2 separate regions of the Homo sapiens genome follow, and region 1 is linked to region 2. A link means that fine-mapping ties the variant in region 2 to the expression of a gene that starts in the linked region. Tissue or cell type: esophagus mucosa. Region 2 holds a variant in brackets; the other region holds the start of a gene. All regions are shown on one strand. Distances are between the middles of the regions.

The links. PIP is the estimated chance that this variant, and not a neighbour inherited with it, causes the effect.
Region 1: it holds the start of ENPP6, and the variant in region 2 is fine-mapped to the expression of ENPP6 in esophagus mucosa (GTEx, PIP above 0.99).

What each region holds. Positions count from the first base shown.
Region 1 is chr4:184,214,197-184,222,282 of GRCh38, reverse strand. It overlaps ENPP6 (ectonucleotide pyrophosphatase/phosphodiesterase 6), which reads left to right and starts at 4,410. Exons shown (of 8, transcript NM_153343.4): 1 at 4,410-4,704. The coding sequence starts at 4,464.
Region 2 is chr4:184,885,488-184,893,593 of GRCh38, reverse strand. It overlaps LINC01093 (long intergenic non-protein coding RNA 1093), which reads left to right. Exons shown (of 2, transcript NR_039977.1): 2 at 1-594. Among named protein-coding and RNA genes, the nearest start is that of LINC01093, 9.9 kb to the left of the region's middle. RefSeq lists an enhancer at 1-4. The variant G/A (reference allele first, on the strand shown) is at 3,559.

The DNA.
Region 1 (8,086 bases), 670 kb after region 2:
CTACCCCTTTCATTTAGGCTGTTGTCTTTATATCCTTTAATTCTTCGTAAGTCATCACTCGCAGCATAGTGTTATTCTTTTTACTTTAAGCAGTTATTTTTAAGGACATTTATGAAAGAAAAACATAGTCTTTTATATGTACTCACATATTGATCATTTATGAATTTTTTTCCCTTCCTGTGTATATTAATTTTCATCTTGTGTTATTTCCTCTCAAAGGACATTCTTTAGTATTTTTTTGTGGTACAAGCCTGTTGGTAACTAATTCTCTCATCTTTTGTTTATCTAAAAATGTCCTTATGTCGTCTTAAATTTTAAATAATATTTTTCCAGATACAAGGAGGGTTGACATGGACCAACAAAAGGCCAGCAGGGCTGCAAAAGCTGGGATGAATTAATTAATAGGACCAACAAGGGTGGATGTTGGCCGACATGGGCTGACTTGGGACCTCACTCTCAAATTGCATTGATTCTACAGCTAGAAAGTAGAAGCTAGAGCTTTGTCACTTTTCAGAGGTGAAAACTGAAGCCCAGAAAGGCAATTTCTTCAGAATCACACAATTGCATCATACCAGGATCTTGACTCTGGAATCACGTTTTTTTTGTGTTTTTTGTTTGTTTATTTTGTTTTGTTTTGTTTTGTTTTTCTGAGACTCTTTCCCTTCCATCTCACCTGTCTCTCCATAAAGGGGAGGCACCAGGGTGCTGACTAATCTGGACAGCACATTTCCTGAGAGCTCATGCATGTCCCTAGAGAGACTTGCAGCAGCTTTAGGACAAAGGTTCTTTCAACTTCTGGAGTAAATTTTTCATATTTTGCATTATCTAAGTGAAACCCCTGTGGACAATGACTTTACAGTATTGCCAACCCTTGAAAACAAGTTGCAATAAGCACTTATAAGCATTAGGTACTGATAACCACTCCCAAGTGAAGACATCCAGATCATAGACACATAGGTTTTGGATCACAAGACTTTGGGCACTTAATGTTAACCACCTGTATGACATATGGCTTTTAACTATTGCTTTTTAGCTTTCATTTCCAATCTTTTCTAGGTTAGACGGTTCAAGACCTGGAGACTGGCTTTGAGCAACCCTAGGATTACCTTGGCTTGAATTCCATCCAATACGTCTCTTTCTTCATATATTGGTATGTATATTAGAGATTCATATTGGCAATCATTTATTGATCCAAAGCTTTAGAGACATTGTCTAAACATGGTCATAACACAATATGATCATAAACATTATCATAAAACAATGATGACCCCACCCCAGATACATCACAACAATCTTTGTGGAGCCTTGGGAGCCTCTGGGGACCTGTGAACACGCTAATCTGAAGCAAGTTACTTCTGAGTTGACACCCACAACAGCTCAATGAGGCACTCAGGGAGCCATATTTTGAGTGTACCCTTGTTAGTAGTGGAGAAAAGTGGAAGTCCCTCTTATATTCATCTTTAACATTTGGAGTGCTTAACCTCTCCCAAAGTGAGCTCAGAAGCCATCCCAAAGTGAGCTCAGAGGCCATCCCAAAGTAAATCACTTGGACTTGCACTGTGACTCCAGCTTCGCAGTCCAGACAATCCCTGAGCCTCTCAGGAACTCACAGAGCACAGCTATCTGGGCCTCCTACCTCCATGGGCCCTCACCAGGGGAAGAAGTTCTCCTTCTAGCACATGTGATGTTCAGTGTCTAGGAGGCCCATCAACCCATCAGGCTGCATCTGCCTTTTCCCCTCCCCTCCCCTCCCTTCTCCTTCCCTTCCCTTCCCTCTCCTCCCTTTCCCTTCCCTTCTCTTCTCTTCTTCCCTTCCCTCCCTTTCCCTTCTTCCCATCCCTCCCTTTCCCTTCTTCCCATCCCTCCCTTTCCCTTCTTCCCATCTCTTCTCTTCCCTTCTTCCCTTTTCTTCCCTTCTTCCCTTTTTCCTTTCCCTTCCCTTCCCTCCCCTCCCTTCCATTCCCCTCACCTTCCCTTTCCTTCTCTTCTTCCCTTCTTCCCTTCCTTTCCCTTCCCTTCCCTTCCCTCCCCTCCCCTCCCTTCCCCGCCCCTTTCCTTCCCTTCTCTTCTTCGCTTTTCTTCCCTTCTTCTCTTCCCTTCCCTTCTTCCCTTCTATTCTTTTTTTTCCTTCCCTTCCCCTTCCCCTTTCCCTTTCCTTTCCCTTCTTTCCCTCCCTTCCCTTCCCCTCCCCTTCCCTTCCCTTCCCTTCCCTTCTTCGCTTTTCTTCCCTTCTTCTCTTCCTTTCCCTTCTTCCCTTCTATTCTTTTTTCCTCCTTCCCTTCCCCTTCCCCTTACCCTTTCCCTTCCCTTCCTTTCCCTCCCTTCCCTTCCCCTCCCCTTCCCTTCCCTTCCCTTCTTCGCTTTTCTTCCCTTTTTCTCTTCCTTTCCCTTCTTCCCTTCTATTCTTTTTTTCCTCCTTCCCTTCCCCTTTCCCTTTCCCTTCCCTTCCTTTCCCTCCCTTCCCTTTCCTCCCCTTCCTTCCCCTCCCCTTTCCTTCCCTTCCTCCCTTTTCTTCCTTTCTTCTCTTCCCTTCTGTTCTCTTTCCTTCTTCCCTTTTCTTCCCTTCCCTTTCTTTCTCTTTCTCCCTTCCTTCGTTTACTTTTCTTTCTTTCCTTTTTCTTTCTTTCTTCCTTCCTTTCCTCTTTCTTCTCTCTTTTCTTTTTCTCTGTTTATAGCAACAATACCACACAGCTCAAAGAAAAAAGAATAACATTGTTTTCAAAGTAACAACCTTTTAGGATAAACTCCCCTTTTCCTTATTTTTTAATAAGAAAAAAATTTAAATTTAATTATAAAAAGCATTACCTCTTATTGGAAAAAAGAATTCTGATCCTTGGCCAAGTCCCCTGAGAGGGGAGTGGTAATTTGGCCAATGTGTTTCTCTTTTGCAGCATAATTTAAAAAGTGACATGGTGATCCTGTGTTTGGGCTTGACTCAAATACAACAGAAAAAGAGAAGGAGAAAAGACACAAGCAGAGGGCAGAGGTGGAAGAGGGATTTTGGGGTTGACTGAGAGTGGCTGGTGTGGCTGGTGTCTATCTTCCTTCCCTGGAAAGTTTGCCCAGAGCCTGCAAGTTTCCTCAGGAGACAAGCAATGTTATAATGCGAATAACATCTAACATTTGTTCAACACTTGCTATGGACCATGCATGTTTTATGTCTTTTTTTTTTTGAGGCAGGGCCTCACTCTGTTGCCCAGCCTGGAGTGCAGTGATACAATCACAGCTTACTGCAGATATGACCACCTGTGCTCACACAATCCTCCCACCTCAGCCTCCTGTGTAGCTGGGACCAGGCACGTGCCGCCAGGCCCAGCTAATTTTTTAATTTTTTATAGAGATGGGGTCTTGCTGTGTTGCCCAGGCTGGTCTCAAGCTCCTGGCCTCAAGCAATCCTTCCACCTTGGCCTCCCAAAGTGGGCCACTGCACTCAGCCATGTTTTATAAGCCTTCACATGAATTGTGTTGTTTAATTTTATGTAGCATGACGGAGCCACTCTAGGGAACCCCTGGACTCTGGGTACTTTGTGCTAACTCTGTCTGCTCCCCAGCTCACATCTGCCTCCCTGTCACTAACCTCCTCCTATTTTCCACTCCGCCTAGTCTTCTCGGTCCCAAAGCCTGCATGGTAATTTCTAGCTCTGCTTTTCCATCTCAAGCTCTCAATCTCCAGCTCTCTATTTCATTTCCATCCTCCTGGGGCAATGCTGCTTCAGACCATTCTGCCAGTAATGATTTCCCATTGTCCAACTCTGGAAGCTTCTCATTGGCTCTAGGGCTCTTCTACGAACCACCTCCTCCTATGGGCACCAGCAGCTAAATCACATTTGAAAAATAAAATAATAACAAATAATAACACTGCATATAAAAACATAAGTGGCCAAGACATAGACAAATAACTTTTTTAAGTGCTGTGTCTACAGAGACACAGCTGGGAAGTTTACAAATGGGCCCACCGAAACGTATTGTTTCCTGTTTATGCACTGAGTCCAGAGGTTTGCGTTACTAAATTCTAAGTGAAAAAGAGTTTAAATGAGGCCATGATGTGGGATAACAGCAAATTAAAATCTTGCCCTTTTCCTTGGTTCCTCCCTTTGGTTAGCTCAACTGCAAAGTTAGTGTTGACTTTGTCATCTTCTAAAATTCCACCTCTGTGGGTGCTTGTATTTCTGGAACGTTCACCAAAAATAATAAGTTTGAACTCTCTCCCCTGGTGTTAATTCTGGGTTGTTTGGAACCCAGTTTATCTGAAGGAGTCGGTCTCTGGACTTTCTAGTAAAGGGTGAGCATAGATGTGTGGAAAAGGGGGTGCTGTTCCTTTAAATTCTGCAAGTGAACTTGACTCAGGAAGGCCAGCGGCTCAAGGTCCAGCCCCTGGAAGAGAGAATAGCTACAGATTCTCCATCCTCAGTCTTTGCAAGGCGACAGCTGTGCCAGCCGGGCTCTGGCAGGCTCCTGGCAGCATGGCAGTGAAGCTTGGGACCCTCCTGCTGGCCCTTGCCCTGGGCCTGGCCCAGCCAGCCTCTGCCCGCCGGAAGCTGCTGGTGTTTCTGCTGGATGGTTTTCGCTCAGACTACATCAGTGATGAGGCGCTGGAGTCATTGCCTGGTTTCAAAGAGATTGTGAGCAGGGGAGTAAAAGTGGATTACTTGACTCCAGACTTCCCTAGTCTCTCGTATCCCAATTATTATACCCTAATGACTGGTGAGTACCATGTCCTCTTCTGGGCAGGGAGGGGAGGGCTGGCATCCAGCAGGGAACAGTGAGCTCCTGGCATTGGAGTCTTATTTAAATGCTCTGGATTCTCTAGTCCTTTGGGACATCAAAGGTAGATAAAAAAAATCTGTGTTCTTGGCTGAGAAGACTTTTGTTTTCGTGGCGGTATTGTTTCCCAAAAGTTATCCCAAGGACCTGTTTTGGATTCTCAGTGCGGAGGACAGAGAACTATAGCAGTACATGATATTTGACGATATTAAAAGTGGTCGTTTATTTTAGAAAGAGAAATTCTAATGAGGCTCATATTTTCTAAGTTCAAGTCTGCAAAAGCAACAGGTGTCCGTGCATGTGTCCCAAACTCCTTCTGTCCCTTTTCTCTGTGGTCATGTCATCCTGGCACCCTGTGGGCTTGTTTCTCAGTGTGTTGGACTGTGAAAGTACCTGTGGGGTCCTCAGAGGGGAGTGGTGCTCCCGGATTACTTGGGGAAGGGGGGATGTTTAGGTCATATCCTTCCCTGTGACTTAGCAATGCCACCTTCCCCTTCTTTTGCCTTTTTGGCCAGGTAAAATGATACGGAGAAGAAAAAGCTTGTGTCGTTCAGGTTCCCCATTTGTGATTTGCAGCATCTACAAAAGACCAACCAGCAAAAACTCCACAAAACAAACAAAAACCTCGGCTAACCCAGACTGCCTGGGCTTGGGATAGCTGATTTTCCTAAGGACGGCCTTCATCTGAAATTGCCAGGACTCCAAACGCGACTGCATGAACCTGAGCCTCTATCCGTGCGATAATAGAATGTGCAGCCCTCTCTCTGCTCACAGAGTTGGATTCCCAGTTTCTGGTTTGTTTTTCAGCTATAACCTTTGTAAAGGCAGCGAGAGGCTCTCAGAAAGAATTTAGCAAACTATCCAGGGAGGCTGCTAAGAATGCACTGTTATTGCTGGTTATGCGGGACTCAGCTATGCACTCTGAGCACAGAGAGAGCTCTGCTAATTATGTTAACAGAAAGAAAATGAGATCTCTGATATCTCATGGACCTCCACAGAACACTAAAGCCAAAAGAGTCTAAAACAGACATTTATATCTCTGACTTTGTGCATAGATACTATATACACATGTACGGAAAAATGCCATAAACTGATGCCCCAAACTGAAGGGGAGAGATACTTCGGAGAAATAAAAATGAGGGCATGAGAGAGAGAAAAAAATCAGACTGCACACAAGCAAGGAAGTTATGTATTTGTTTTTTATTTCCCCCAGCAGACAAAAAAACAGTCTCTAAGATAAACAGAATTAACAAAATTCTCTGGCCCTCCCCTGGCATGTGTCTCCCCTTGCAGGGAAGCAGTTTGCAGGCTGCCGGCTCTCACATAGACGTGATTGTGTGGACAGCCGACTCCAGCTCTGTGCAGCGGCTTCACACACACAGCCCACCCCCACTCCAGCTGTCTTTCAGAGCCTTGCCAGGGGACCCAATTCATAAACTGCCACGCCACGTGCAGCTTCTGCAATCTTAGTGGAAAATGAACAAAATCCATCTTAGAAAGGACTCAAGTAAGTAAAAGGACCATTACAGACTCCACAGAGACACTAAGCCAATGACATGGCCTTTTGTTTGTCAGATCCACACTCCTGATATTGGCACAAGGAATAATTTGCACACAGCCTCCGTCATGCTGAGACACACCTTCTTTTCCGGCTGTGGGTGTTTTCCCTTGTGCTGTCCTGAGAGAAGGGCCCCTTCCTTTATGGGCAGCACAGGTCCCGTGAGTGTCTGACAAAGATCTCACCCTTGCTTTCAAACTGAGGCTGGCCCGAGGAAGCCACAGGTCTCCATATGTGTTAAGTCTCTGTATTTTCAGATGGCCAAATGTATTCACTGATGTGGAAGTCTGCTTGGTCTATATGTTTCATAGAAGCTACCCTGCACAAGGGAGGGATCTAGCAAGGCTCATGTTTCTGTACAAATGTCCTTGGGTATGATTTGTCTTGTACCTACTGGGCAGACTTGCAGACTTGAAGCAGAATTCGCAGGCTGGGAAATGCCAGGCCATGAACCTGGTATCACCTCCACTGTCTTGGAACTGACTCAGAGTTAAATTTAGACTATTTTCCCCAATACCCATACTTATTTTTCCACCTGATGCTGAAAACCTCCTCTTTTACTCATATAAAGAAGGATATAGCCATTGGGAATTGTAGCTAAACATATGGTTTGAGCATTTGAGCATTTTATGAACCAACAAAATTGCTATGCTAGATCTTTTTGGAAGCAAAAGATATGCTGTTTTAGGGTTCCTCAGCATTCACAAGAGAGGCTAAGCTCTCACTTCATTACCCGAATTATTGCTCAGAATACAGAAAGCCCTTGGTGTTCTTCCCTTTGCATAACGAGGAGTGATGAGTTGTTGGAAAGAATGCTGGCCCTTGAGCTGGGAGAACTTGCTTGGAGACTTCAGGCAAAATAAAATGAGATGAACTGCCGGGGCTGCATCAGGCCGGGATTTCAGGTGCTGCTGGATGCAGACATAGAACTAGGCAATGCATGGGGAATTTTATTTTATTTTATTTCACTTTAAATTCTGGGACACATGTGCAGAACGTGCAGTTTTGTTACAGAGGCATACATGTGCCATGGTGGTTTGCTGCACCTGTCAACTCGTCATCTAGATTTTAAGCCCTGCATGCGTTAGGTATTTGTCCTAATGCTCTCCCTCCCTGTGCCCCCGATCCTCCAACAGGGCCCAGTGTGTGATGTCCCCCTCCCTGTGTCCATGTGTTCTCATTGTTCAACTCCCACTTATGAGTGAGAACATGTGGTGTTTGATTTTCTGTCCCTGTGTTAGTTTGCTGAAAATGATGGCTTCTAGCTTCATCCATGTCTCTGCAAAGGACATGAACACATTCTTTTTTATGGCTGCATAGTATTCCATGGTGTATATGTGCCACATTTTCTTTATCCAGTCTATCATTGATGGGCATTTGGGTTGGTTCAAAGTCTTTGCTATTTGCACAGGTAATTTTAAAGTTAGGGCTGGACCCTCCTAGGAGGCCTTCGTGTAGAAAGTATGCAAATAGCGGAAACTCCCTTGAGACAGAGAATTTCACAGTGGATGGGGATGGGGAATCAACAGGCCTATTTGTGAGCAACCTTGAAACCATCTAGCCCAGTTGCTGCCATGAAGCCACCATGGCTGATTATTTATTTGCCTCAAAACATGTTTATATCAGGACAAAAGCAACCAAAATGCCAATCATGATCATGAAGATGAATCAAACAATTGAATGCCAGGAACATTGAATCTTTTTTCTTTTTTTTTTTATTATTATACTTTAAGTTTTAGGGTACATGTGCACATTGTGCAGGTT
Region 2 (8,106 bases):
TTTGTGCTGTTGGTCACTTTTCATAAAGGTTCTTGCTATTAAGGAACTTGACATCCAATGTACTCATAGAAAGTAGAAATTCAGGGGAAACAAATAGAAGAGATATGTCCAAAAATCCATTTAAAATTTCATTGACAGATATTTATCTCTTTAATCCTGGAAGTTGTTTCATGTAAGGGAAGGTTCAGTAGAATGAAAACAGGACTGTAAGCTGGGAGGAGATTTGGGGTCTCTTGGCCAACTCTGCCACAAATTGTGTTACCTTCAACTTCCCTGCCTGTAAAATGAAGTCAGTGGTCCCTAAAATGAAATTGGACTAATGGCAAATTAGCTAGCATTTGATTATACATCGATAGTTTCCCCATGTGATTTTAACGCACAAATCAGATTTTGGAACCATTAGGTAGGTGATCTTATCTTATGAGTTTATCTTTTTCAACATGGAAAAATAAATTTGTTTTGCTGACCGAAGGCTGTGTAACTTAGAACTGGAAAGAGACATGTAATTGAATAACCCATCTCTATGGGGCAAAAAAATGAAACACCTTTAGTTTGTTCAAAGATGAAATGGAAAAATAAACATGTTTTAAGATGACTTGGTAGAGAAAATATTTTCTTTGCCAGGATATTAGAGAATTTGTCAAAAGTTATTACACAGGAAAGTCAAAGGTTTCATTGCAGGAACTTAATAAATATTTGTTTATTAGCTGATTAATGTGCTGATCCAAGCAGAGAAGGAATCCTGTCTTTGTTTTAAAGTCAGGATTTCTAATTTCCCTTTCAGGATAAAAATGTGCTCTGTGTTCAGCTAAGCAACCTAAACTGTCTATTCCATTATTCAAACAAACACCAAAAAGGATTGAATGTATCCTCTGGCAACCAAAGATAATACTCCCAGGTCAAGCTTCTTTCAGGCAGATATTAATGGTTACTTTTAGTTATTGAAAAATATTGCATAATTCATGCGCTGTGCTTGACGAAGCAGATCCCACTCTGGGGCCCTCAGGAATTTGAGGCAGAATTCCCTACTCTTTGAGGGTGTCTTCATTCCCCACCCTGGGTGTTTATCATGCCTCTGAGTGAAACCCATAGGATGACAATGGCATAGCTTTTCAAAAAAGAAATCATCCAAAGTCCTTTCTAAAGTGCAGAAGTCAGAACTATTGATTCTGAAATTGAGCCATTTCCAGTGGTACCAAAGAAGTGGTATATTATAGAATTAGAATATGTCTTCTATTCAGCACATTCCAAATCACTCTCTATTCAAACATACTCAAAATGTATTTTTATTCAACATATTCAAAATGTTCATCCTTCAAAAAGTGCTTCCCCCATTAGCCAGCCCCCTGCAAGTCAGTTGTTCCCACCTTTATTCCACTGATATGGAGGTCATTTGAATGCTGTTTGCTCTGTTAAGATGCTGTCATTTGAACAATACACTCACATTTCAGGCAAATTTGAATCATGCAAATTTTAAATAATGCTATGTAAAATAGCAATAAAATACTACTGGAGATTGCTCAATTTCAGAATGGGCAACATTTGAAATAGTCCAAATTCCTCCAAATTTGCATGATTTATCCAGAATGGCATAACAAATCCAGAGCACAGCCAGTGAAACTTACGCTGTGTTTGGACCCTGGTCTGGTGGCTGTGCCACAGTTGCGGTAAACAGAAACCTCCACAGGGAAACCTCCACAGGCCTTGGTCAGTGTGATGGGGAGTAGTACAATGAATCAAAGCAGATGTTTTCCTGAGTGATTTTTGTGGCTATAGTGCTGGGGTTTTTTTGTTTTTTTTTTTTTTTCATTGTGTTAATAATTTAATATCTTTTCTATCCTATGAAAGTATCATGTAAGCTTTTATAATATAGTGGCACTGAAAACGTGCTGTAAATTATGATCCATTCAGTATGACAGGGGAATGGTTCCAGGACCCCCGGCACCTTCCACCCCAGGATACCAACATCTGTGATGCTCAACTAACTGATAGAAAATGGCCTAGGATTTGCATAGAACCTACTTACGTCTTCCTGTATACATTTTTTTTTTTTTGAGACGGAGTCTAGCTCTGTCTCCCAGGCTGGAGTGCAATGGCACGATCTCAGTTCACTGCAGCCTCCACCTTCCAGGTTCAAGCAATTCTCCTGTCTCAGCCTCCCAAGTAGCTGGGATTACAGGCACATGCCACCACACCCAGCTATTTTTTTTCTATTTTTAGTAGAGACTGGTTTCACCATGTTGGCCAGACTTATCTCGAACTCCTGACCTCAAGTGACCCACCCATCTCGGCCTCCCAAAGTGCTGGAGTTACAGGCATGAGCTACCATGCCCAGCCCCTTCCCATATACTTTAAATCAACTCTAAATTACTTATAATATCTAATGCAATATAAATCCTATGTATATAGTTGTTATACTGTTTGGCGTAGGGAATAATGGCAAGAAAAAGCCTGTACATGTTCAGTACAGACACAACCATCTTTTTTTGTTTGCTTCCTGAATACTTTCCATCCATGGTTAGTTGAATCTGAGAATGTTGAACCCCTGGATTCCGAGGGCCAACTGTGGTATGAAGTGACATTAGATGTGATAGACGAAGAAGGCCTGTCACTGGCCGTGATCCATTGGGCCATTAATTTGGGAGAAAGACTCTGCAACATAAAAGAGATTCTGCTAGGAAGTGTTTTGAAGCATCTTTAAAGCAAGGATACCATGAATCTAGATGTAGGCACTCTGAGAACATACTCCCTTCCTGTCTTATGATTATCTATAGGAAAATTAGACTTAGATTAGGCACATCTTGGATGATGCCTTTCTTCCGGAACGTGGCTACCTTTAAATATTTTCATGTGAATATAGTGCACGTGCTTCCTAGATTGTAATCTCCTCGGAAGGAAGCAGAAACCATCTGTTGTTTTTATATCCCACACTCCAGCTAGCTAACGACAATAATGGTGACATTGTGACAGCAGTTTACTGTTTACAAAGTGCTTCTGTCTCAGTTCACCCTTGTGATGACACTGCAAGGTGAGTTTTCTTGGTTTCTAAGTTTGACAGGCCAGGACCCAGAAGTGTAGAGAGAGTCATTGATTTGTCTGGGTCACTCGGCAACAAGTGGTGGGTAAGAAACTGGAGAATGGGAAGCTGCAGGCATGGGATGGGAAGCTACAGGCATGGGATGGGAAGCTGCAGGCATGAGATGGGAAGCTGCAGGAATGGGATGGGAAGCTACAGGCATCCGAATGGGAAGCTGCAGGCATGGGATGGGAAGCTGCAGGCATCCGAATGGGAAGCTGCAGGCATGGAATGGAAGCTACAGGCATCTGAATGGACTTCTTGCATCTGTCTCCCTTTGAAACCCTGCATCTGATTCCGTCTTCCGGGTACAGGCATGTCTGGCAACACGGAGGATGAACACCTCTCACCCTGCCTCCCTGCTGCATGATCTTTGACTGTGGTCCCTCACTCGTTCCTCAGAGCATCAGTTCATCAGGGGGACTCATCTGGGGCTGGCTGGTGAGGAAGAAGGGTCCCTGGTGTGCACTGATGTTCACTGC[G/A]TGGAAATGTGTCCCTTGGGATGGAGAAAAGTGGAGGGGCACACTCCATATCAAAGCAGAACTGTCATAGCTGCCAGTCCCGGAGAAAGCAGCAGAAAAAGCCAGGGGACCGGCCACGTTCTATTTCCAGCCATAATGAGTCATGAGATCGTGGAAAGGCCCTTTAACCTCTCCAGCCTTAATTTCCTCATTTGTAAAATAAGAACAACACTTGTCTAAGCCACCTCACAAGACAGTTGTGAATGATGGGAATGGTTTCTTTCTAACGTATGTCACGCTTGGGCAGGGCTGCCCTGGGACCTCCGGTGAGCCTGCTGCAGGAGAGAAGCCTCCCCCCACCATGTGAACACACCCTCCCCACCCAGCCCCCACACTCCCTGGCTGGCACACACGGGACTTCATTATTATTGTTGTTTTAAAAAATGAATTTGGCATTTTGCATTTGAAGAATAAATAACAAATATTCTAGCTAGTCAAATAAACTGAAATACATATTTATAAGCCAACCTATTTTGTTAGTTTTTACAAATATAAAATTATGCCCCCTTTTGGTCTATAAACTAAAATCTATACAATTATCTGAGTGTGAGGAGTGGAATCAGTTTTAAGAAATTTACTTTGGAGGCCAGGCACAGTGGCTTACTCTTGTAATCCCAGCACTTTGGGAGGCTGAGGCAGGTGGATCATTCGAGGTCAGGAGTTCGAGACCAGCCTGGCCAACATGGCGAAACCCCGTCTCTACTAAAAATACAAAAATTAGCTGGGTGTGGTGGCGCCCACCTGTAATCCCAGCCACTTGGGAGGCTGAGTGGGGAGAATCAATTGAGCCTGGGAGGTGGAGTTTGTGGTGAGTCAAGATCATGCCACTGCACTCCAGCCTGGGCGACAGAGTGAGACTCTGTCTCAAAAAAAAAAAAAAAAAAAAAAAGGAAGAAAGAAATTTACTTTGGAAATGCCCAGAACAGGCAATTTAGATGAATTTATGAGGAATCTCTTTTCCTTGACCCAAAGGTACCTAGGGTATAGCTTTACCAAACGAAGGAGATTTGGCAGGGAATGTGTCCTTGTCCTCCAGAAAACAAGGAGTGGCTCTGAAAGCAACACAGGGGAGAAGGAGGCTCACTCCTACACACACATGTACAACCCCAGGAAGGGGGCAGGTGGGAAGCAGGAACACCCCCTTCTCCTCTTCTCAAGCCTCCACCAGTACCCCTTGTCCTTTGGTACCAGCCCTGCCCCTTCCTGGCTGCCTCTGGGGTGCATCTAATTTTGCCTGAGTTAATATCTCTGTCAATGGTTCTACGCAGTGGGCTTTGCTCTGGGGAAAGACAGCAATAAGTTTTGTGTTGTGGTCTTTTGATTCTGGTTGCTGGGAGTGCCATGTTGAAGGTGAGTCTCAGGCGAGCCATGGCTCAGGGAGAGTAGTGAGCACCCATTCCACAGAGCTGCTTTCCCTTCTCCTGGGCCTGAAGTTCCCCTGGGAGGGTCTTGGCTGACAGCCTGTGGCAACCAAGCTTCTTTGTTCACTGTTAGACACACCAGAATTTGACACAAGTCAAGAGTGTGCAAGTGTATGTTTAGAGAAAGAGGGCTTTCCCTCTTACCCGTTGCATAAATGACTTTAAAAGAATCTTCAAACTGCAGATGTTCTAGTATGTTTCTAGGTCCATCCACCACCCCCACTTACCCCCTTTGGTATAGAGACCTGTTCTGAGGTTGGGTAAGGAGGCTTCAGGAGGCCCTGTGACTTGTCCTAGGCCACTCAGACAATTGGTAGAAGAGCCAGGCCTAGAACCAGTTCTCTGTACCCTCCCATCTTGGGACATGGCTAGCATGCCCTGGTTCCCTGGTTATCCCTCGGGAGGGTCAGACTATGTAGGTCAGAACTCAGATAAGGCACCTGGGGAACACATGGAGAGGCCTTTGCCAAGAGCAGTGCAGCCTGAGAAACAGAATGAAATCTTTGAATGTTGTGGCTGCAGAAGGAGGCAATGTAATCGACTGCTGGTGAAACCCAGGAAAGGAAGCTGGGAGCAGGCGACGTCGGAGATTGAGGTGTTTAGTATCCAGGCCGCAGGCACTGGGCCCCATTTTTGGGAACAGGCCTCTTACCCCTGGGAGGGTATCCAGCACTAAAAAAGTCAGAAGCTCAGTCCCATGGGGACTGAAGTTGTTGGCAAGAGGCATAAATGGATATTCAGGTTTAAGAAATAGGGCTGGAACCTCATGATTACATCAAAGATGGGGCTTATGAAGGGAGAGGGGGCAAAGAAACACCACAGCGTCCAGAAAAAGGTGTCTGAGTGTTGGGCCAACCCCGCTAGGCCCATAGATAGGGGTGGTCCCAGAGGTGAGAAGGGGGTTGAGCCTGCAGATTTGGGATAGTTAAGGGGATTGGTGCAGGGACAAAGATGAAGGCTGCTGACCAGGCAGAACTTTGCACTGACTTTTAGCCCAGTGCTCTTTTCTATTAAATATTTATCTATTAGAAGTTCTGCAAGGCTAAGACTTTTCACCCTTGTACCCTATAAAAAAGGAAGGGTAGAGATGTGAGGTTCTGACTCGCTCCTGCCAGTTTGGGGAAAGCAGTCGTATTTACCCAGATTTGGCAATCCCATATTGGATAACTCAAGCAGAGGAAAGTCTTAGCCCATGGCCAAGCTCCCAGTTCTTCATAAATACCAGGAAAAAATGGGCTTTTAAAAGGTGTTACATAAGTCATCCTATTGAAAAGTCAGGTAGGGAGTACAATGTGCAATTCAGTCAGTAAGGCAGTTGCCACTAGACTCGTGGAGGGAAGAGGGAGATTGAGACTTGTATGGGAGGCAAGATAGAGAGGGGAGGAATACTAGTCTTGCAGTCAGAAAACCTGGTTGACTCTGCTATCCCACTGCTCTGGGCAATGTCCTCATCTATAACATGGGGAATACACATCCCAGAGAGGAATAAGAAGTAAATGAAATTGTATCTTTGCAAGTGCATTGAAAGAATTGCAGAGAATTATTCTCCTATAATTTACATCCACCACCCCTTTCCTCTTTCTTGGCTATTCAGATATTCTTGGCTGAGTCGAGGAATGAATACCCAGCTTGATTAGGCAGGTGTGGACTGAGGCTGGTGACCAACCCCACTGTCCCTCAGGAGCTTGGTGGCTGGTTCTTCTAGCAATAGCTCACCTGTGTCTAATCCCACATTTACTCTCTTAGAGCAAGAGAGAGAGGCTAGCATTCTGCTGACTGTCCAGGCACTGAAATGATCATGGTCAAGTCATATTCAACTAACTCCTTTTTTTCTGTAGAAAATACTATATTATAGAGTTGCACATGATCTTGTTGTAGGAGGGAGGTGAAAAACTAATTAAGAACATAGCTTGCTGAATGAGTATTTCCTCAGAGTTGATTAATATCAGTGTGCTAGCCAGAGCGAGATCATTAGGTCTCTGTTTTTGGCCATGGTCAAACTGACAACTTAATGAGTAATGCACAGAAAGCATGCTGATCAGATCTGCAAATGCGGGAAAAATACTTACAACCAAATAGCAAATGCTAACTAAATAGATGATAAACAAAACCAAATAAATGCCCGTAAGATTCTGTTAATGATTTTCGCCCCTGGATGTGCACTAGAATCAACAGGGAAACATATTTTAAAAATATTCATGCCTTCTAATTTAGTTTAATTTCCCCGGGAATTTAAAAAAAAATTAAAGAAAAAAGAAAAATCACATGACTAGGATCCTTTCCCAGAGATTCTGACTGAGTGTGGGGCCAATCTATGTGAAAATCATTTTAGAAGGTAGTAAAGGCAAAACAAAACCAAGATGCGAAGTGGCATACACTTTAGGATACTAAGTATATGAAAATACATACGCAGAAAAAGATGGTAGGAAAATATAAGAAACTGTTAACTGTGATTAACTCAGGATTAGCAAACAGATTGATAATAAGTGACCTTACTTTCACTGTATTTTCCACGAAGCCTTCAATAGTCACAATGTATTGCTTTTTAATCAAGGGAGAAAAGTTGATTTTTTAAAAAGATGTTGGAGTTGACTGATTACTTTTGTGTGCCAACTGTATAATGTTGGTTACTAAAAAAACTATCAGAATCATAGGCTGCCTGTCCATGAACATGGTAGCTACTTAAGATCACGAATGACACCATGGGCTTTGTGCTGGGCAGAACTCACTGGAGTTGTGTTTGCCTCTGAGGACCATATATGGATAGGGATATCATCCGCCAGGAAATGAAGGGCTGCAACACATCATGAGTCAAGAGCAAGATCCTGGTTTGGAAAAGAGGAGACGGGGCTACGGCAACTGTCTCTCTATATCTGAAGTGCTTTACTAGAGAAGAAGGAGCAGGTGTCCTCAAAAGCCATTCATCAGCAAGAACATGCTGGCCCAACCTAAGAAAGAGCCTGAAAGAATAAAAAGGTGCAGCAGCAGGGTTGGCTGCTTCCAAATGTATGAGGTACCCCATTATGCAAAGTGTCAGTGCACGCTCTGAAACTTTATGTATTTGGTAGGAAAAACTTCTGTGTCCTAT